Linked DNA regions of Homo sapiens: region 2 is linked to region 1. The links come from fine-mapping of genetic effects on gene expression. A gene starts in region 1. The other region holds a variant in brackets. All regions are shown on one strand. Distances are between the middles of the regions. Region 1 holds the start of MARCO (macrophage receptor with collagenous structure). Region 2 overlaps MARCO (macrophage receptor with collagenous structure).

Evidence for each region. PIP is the estimated chance that this variant, and not a neighbour inherited with it, causes the effect.
Region 2: its variant is fine-mapped to the expression of MARCO in whole blood (TOPMed, PIP above 0.99).

Annotation. Positions count from the first base shown.
Region 1 is chr2:118,940,473-118,943,383 of GRCh38, forward strand. MARCO (macrophage receptor with collagenous structure) reads left to right here and starts at 1,722. Exons shown (of 17, transcript NM_006770.4): 1 at 1,722-1,925. The coding sequence starts at 1,829.
Region 2 is chr2:118,980,953-118,983,863 of GRCh38, forward strand. MARCO (macrophage receptor with collagenous structure) reads left to right here. Exons shown (of 17, transcript NM_006770.4): 9 at 457-555; 10 at 669-704; 11 at 1,204-1,302; 12 at 1,396-1,458. Among named protein-coding and RNA genes, the nearest start is that of MARCO, 40 kb to the left of the region's middle. The variant C/T (reference allele first, on the strand shown) is at 1,762.

The sequences.
Region 1 (2,911 bases):
CTCTGCCAGGCTAAGTGAGCGGGTTCCTTTGCCTAGGGGACTGCCCTCCAGTGGGCAAATCCCCTGTGTCCTCAATTATCTGGTCCTGTCTACCCCCCAGACTCTAGCTGGAGCCATCACTTCCTCATTTCCAATTTTCCTCTTTAAATTTTTCTGTCCTGGCTTCTGCTGCTTGTCCTCTGGCGGAACCAGTGACTTCCTGAATGTTGAAATTGTGGGCGCCACGGGGGACCTCTGCTTTTCAGGGCACTGCTAGGAGCTCACTTTCCTGAGTTTCATCCCCTTTCACTTTCTGACATACCACGGGCCAAAGAAAGTGACTTCGCCTGGCACAGCTTCACTTCCTGCCACCTGTCTTCCTCACCTCTTACATTTCAAATAGGCCAAAAGTCTACGGCTCCCCTGCTCCAGGCTGTCCCACCTCTGAGAGGCTGCACCTGCCCTCCTTCCTCCCTGGAGGGCCTTTGCCTCATCTTGATCTGGATCAATCCCCCATTATCCTTTTAAGCCCAGCTCTGGTATCTGATATCTCTTGATTCAGATGATAAAGCTATTTGTCATATTTCTGCCCTGTCTCCCCTGCCTCCCGGCACTTCTGTCTTTTCAGGGACATCAACCTTTGCCGCACTTCACAGCAATTTTCTGGAATGTAGTTGTAGCCGCAACCATCTTGCATGGTAGACTGTGAATATCTTTCATGAAAAAAGGCCATTTCTTCATCTCCTCGGTGCCCAGCAGGCTCACAATGTCTCTAATGATAATAACAACAACATGACCATAGTGTTTATTACCTAATACTTCCATCCTAGCCACCTTATATGATTTAATTCATTTAAGGCTCACGAAATTCATATCTTCCTTATTTATACAAACAGAAGAGTGAGATGCTCAAAGCTCAAGTGATTTGCCTACTGCCAGACAGCCCCTATGTGGAAGAGGTGGAATTTGAAGCCAGGCATTCTAGCTCTTAGTGTCTGTGTCTTAACCACCATGCTATACAGCATCCCTGGTAGAGATGCCTGACGGGAGGGAGAGAGGGGAGAAGCTACTTTCCTTAAGGAGCTCAGATCTCACTGGGGCCTGGACAAGGACACCTGTAACACATGTACACATGTGCACACATGTGTACACACACAGAGAGAGAACATGGGAAAACTACAAGAAGAAATACTAAGTGCTAAAATGTGTGGTTCAGAGCAAGGCTTCTCAAACTGTAATGTGTATATAAATCACCTGGGGATCTAGTTAAACTGTAGATTTGGATTTGATCTGATGGGGTGGGACCAGAGACTCATTGTTAGAACAAGTGAACTTGCATTTCTAACAAGTTCTCAGGTGATACTAATACTGCTGGTCCATGGACCACACTTTGAGCAGCAAGGATGAACTCTAAAGGTTGAGGCAGGTCAGAGAAGGGAGATTTCACTGTGGGCTGGAGAGGTCCTGGGACAGAGAGCTGAGTCTGGGCCCATGGCAGGGCTTGGTTGGCCCTCTCTGGAGCCATCCAGCTTTTGGGTCTCAGGGACCTGGGAGTGACGGGTGCATTCAGAGGCCCGTAACTTGTGTCCCAAAGCCTCCTCGATCCCCCTTAACAAGCAGCAGCACTGTGTGGGAGATCCACATGTGAATAGCCCGTGTTTGAGAAATGTCCAATCCTGATCATGTCAGGAAACATCCTGCAAATTCTGAAATCAGAGCCAAAGGGAAGTGCTGCGAGGTTTACAACCAGCTGCAGTGGTTCGATGGGAAGGATCTTTCTCCAAGTGGTTCCTCTTGAGGGGAGCATTTCTGCTGGCTCCAGGACTTTGGCCATCTATAAAGCTTGGCAATGAGAAATAAGAAAATTCTCAAGGAGGACGAGCTCTTGAGTGAGACCCAACAAGCTGCTTTTCACCAAATTGCAATGGAGCCTTTCGAAATCAATGGTAAAGTACGATTCCCCAATAATGGAAATGACCAGAAATGTAGTCTTTCTGCTAGCGAGATACGAAAATAGACAAGTCAATAGAAAGTCTAGGTTTGGCTTATTGCTGCATTTTGCACGTAATCATCACTAATACTGTCTGGAGTGCTTCAATTTGGAATTTCTGGAATGCTAATAATAGATGCTGTATTTTTAGCATATAGTCAGGTTTTTCTTAGCTTCACTATTGTTTTAATCATATTTAAATATTTTCCCTTGAAAAAATGCCAATGCTTATTAAATGTCCCCTTTTTTTAATGAATGTCTTATTCTGACACACAGGTTGGGTGATACAATGAAAACGCAAAACAGGGGCACTGAAAGGGGACCACAAAACTGAAGCCAAGCATGACAGTTTTCAAAACACAGCTTCTTTAAAATTCTTTAAGGGGATTTCTGTTATAACTGATGTGCTGGTCAGGAAACATATTCTGTATTTCATGTTGACTGAAATATGTTCATAGCTTCATAATTAGTTTGTCTTAGGTTAAACTCAGGTCTGTAATATTCAGTCAACTCTGTTGTCTTTATTTTCTCACTCAGCATTCAACAGGTGATGCATTTTTAAAATCTTCTAGAATTTGTAGCATTTGAAGTCATGGGTGGGCTTGCATTCCACAAATGAGCTCTGATTTCCTAGTCTAGAACGTTCTCTTGGGATCATCTTCCAAGTTGATCAGTCATTTCCACTCCCAGGCTTTGCTGGAAGTTGTCTATGCAGGAAAATTGGTGGCTTTATCTCCTGGCCAGAGTGTCCTTCTCATCCCACACCTGTCTGCCCAGGTCCCTGCCTGGAATTTTCAGCGCACAAAGATGAAGCGTCTGGGGCTCTGCCTCTAGGAATTTACAGTGTAATAACAGAGAAAGGTGTGAGTGCTAATGGCTATAATAATCATTGGCTATTTAGAACTTCTCAGAATGCAACATTCTGGATACATGACTGTTTAA
Region 2 (2,911 bases), 40 kb after region 1:
CTGAAGTGCTGGCAGGAATATGAGCTGCTGCAGTGTTTTTCTCTCTATTGATGCCTCAGAGTTGCTATTCTCAGCATTTGGGATCTGCTTTTCGGAATACTCAGGTTTCAATTTTTGAAGTGAATTCAAATAATTGCCAAAATGCAGACACTAAAACAAGCCAGACAGTGCTGGCTGAGCCTTGGCTATTGTCCCTCCCAAGGGGACCAGGGCTTTCTGTTGACTGTCAGCCATACCAGATCACCTCACCAAATTTTCATGAGTTTCTTTCTTGTCTCTGGGGCAAAGCGGTGCACTCCTTGAGGGCAGCGGTCATATCTTCCACTCGCGGGCACCAAGTAGGAGCTCAAGGAGTTTAGGGTTTGGGATTTCAGTGGAATGGGAAGTGTCAGAGGAGGACATGGTGGCCTGATTGGAGTTCCTCCCACAACTAACCAAGACTTTTTGGTTTTTCAGGAAGCAAAGGGGACAGGGGCATGAAAGGAGATGCAGGGGTCATGGGGCCTCCTGGAGCCCAGGGGAGTAAAGGTGACTTCGGGAGGCCAGGCCCACCAGGTAAGAGGGCACGTGGTCACATCCACTGACCTCTAGGTATTTCCTTTTTTTTTTTTTTCTGGCTGGCTGAGCCAAAGGAAAAAAAAATTCCTAAAAGTTCTTTTTCATCTTAGGTTTGGCTGGTTTTCCTGGAGCTAAAGGAGATCAAGGTAAGAACTACAGGAATCTGGGCATCATCCCAGCTACGACTGTCCCTGGCAGAGTGAAGCTGGGGACCAGACACCACCATCTTTTGCTTCATTGTAGTATTCACCCAGAACACCTGGGGTTTTTTAGACATCTGGCCCTGGCCAAGAGGAACAGAGCAGCCAGTGGGCGGTGGGGGCAGGCCTCACTGATGTTTCTCTCTAGACTTTACCCCACTTTGCCACCCAGGGGGTGGAGTTGGACAGTCACACCCAGAGCTCCTAGTAAGTCCATAAGTCCCAGGCCCTGCAGATGGAAAAGATTAGTAAGTTGCTGAGAATAATTTTCCTCCTACTAAGAGGGCTAGCTCATGGCTTCTAAAGAGAGGTGTTAAAGCTGCCAAGAGGACTGTAAGGTGTTAAGAGGTACATGTCTCACTGCTGAAAACAGAAGCACTGGGGGTTGGGGTATCTGGGCCCTCTGCCAACCACCACAGCCTGGCAGTCACTACTTTCCTTTCAGGACAACCTGGACTGCAGGGTGTTCCGGGCCCTCCTGGTGCAGTGGGACACCCAGGTGCCAAGGGTGAGCCTGGCAGTGCTGGCTCCCCTGGGCGAGCAGGTGAGGTCCTGGGTCCTATGGTGGGCACAGGGAGTGATGTGTGAAAACCTGCCTAGTCCAGCCCTTATGCTCTCTGTGGTGTCTGTTGTCCAGGACTTCCAGGGAGCCCCGGGAGTCCAGGAGCCACAGGCCTGAAAGGAAGCAAAGGGGACACAGGTAACAGAGGGTGCAGTGGGTGAGTAGGTGGGCTTGCTGGGTGGCAGGATGGATGGAGAGAAAAACTGCTTCTTCTTAGGCCCACGGAGGAGGCAGAGGGTCTTCTGTGCCTTGGCCTCTGAGGTTCCTGGTTATGGGGGCAGTTGCCCCTGCCAGGACCCCTTAAGCCCAAGGGCCTAGGGCTGTTCTTTCTCTTCTCAGAGCTCATGAAAGTCCTTGAATGCCATGACCAAACCTCCAGCATCACGGAGGAGAGCAAAGCACCTTGCCCATACCATCTCCCTGGTCTGCCTCCCAGCTGTA[C/T]GTTTCTGCTGTCTCCTGCTAACCCTTCATTGGGGCCCCTAAGAGGGGGTCCAAGAGTCTAGATTCAGGCTGGAGGGTCCAGAAAACTCTTCTTCCACATTTTCCTAGGGGGGCAGCCTGGGAGCACTGACCCACACTAGCCAAAGACTAGTTTATACCATAATGCCAACAGAGTCTAGGTTAGTCTAGGTTATATACCATCATGTCTATTTAGTCTAGGTCGTAAACCATTGTACCAATATAGTCTACTTTATAAGCCGTTTTGGTCCAGTCACAGTGTGCTTGCTTGGTCTAGAAAGTCCAGACCACTATCACAATGCATAAGATCAATTCCTGCCTTTCTGCCCTGACATGCAGGGTATTGCAGTGAACAGAGACTGTTGCCAGATGATGTGGGCACACTCTGATTGGGCATTTCTGTGGAGAACTGTTGCACATTGGAAAGCCAAGAGCGGGCAGGAGGGGCAATGGGGAAGGCAGGGTTGTGATGTAAAGCTGCATGTCTGCCAAGGACATCTGTAGACAGTCTGCCTCCACCCCTGTCCTCTGCCTGAGAAGGTCACGCTTGTGTCAGACAACCTGGATGCCCTCACCCCCGTGCTGTGCTAGAGACCTACACTGGGACCTGGCCCTCCACAGCTCTAATCAATTGATTGATTCATTCATCACCACCTCCTGGCAAACCTTGGGCTCTGGGCTTGAGCTTTTGTGTTTCTTTGAAAGCTGTCGGGAGCCATGGCAAGCGCAGTTTTACACCCTCTCTGTCCTTGTAATCTGTCGAGCCCCAGAGCAATTGTGTTTTTTATGGACAGTGTGTTTGGGAGGATCCCTGCTACCTGATCCCATGTGGATGCCACCTGAAGGCCACTAGCTGGGTCTCACCATAGGAAAGTTTCCATCTGGGTATAGTCGTCAGATGTTCCTGACTTGTTCACTGTCCATTCTGATCTTATAATTCCATCTTCTCTGGTCCCCAGTCTCAGAGTCCATCTGACTATGAGACCTGATGCTCTCTTGCCCCTGAGCCTTCTGTGTGATTTCATGGAGATGATTGCTTTCATCTCTCGGTTGTAAATAGTAGTCACCCTCTGCCCCCACCCCCACTGCCAGACTAACGGTTCTCAACTAACCAAGAGTATTGGAGGTAAAA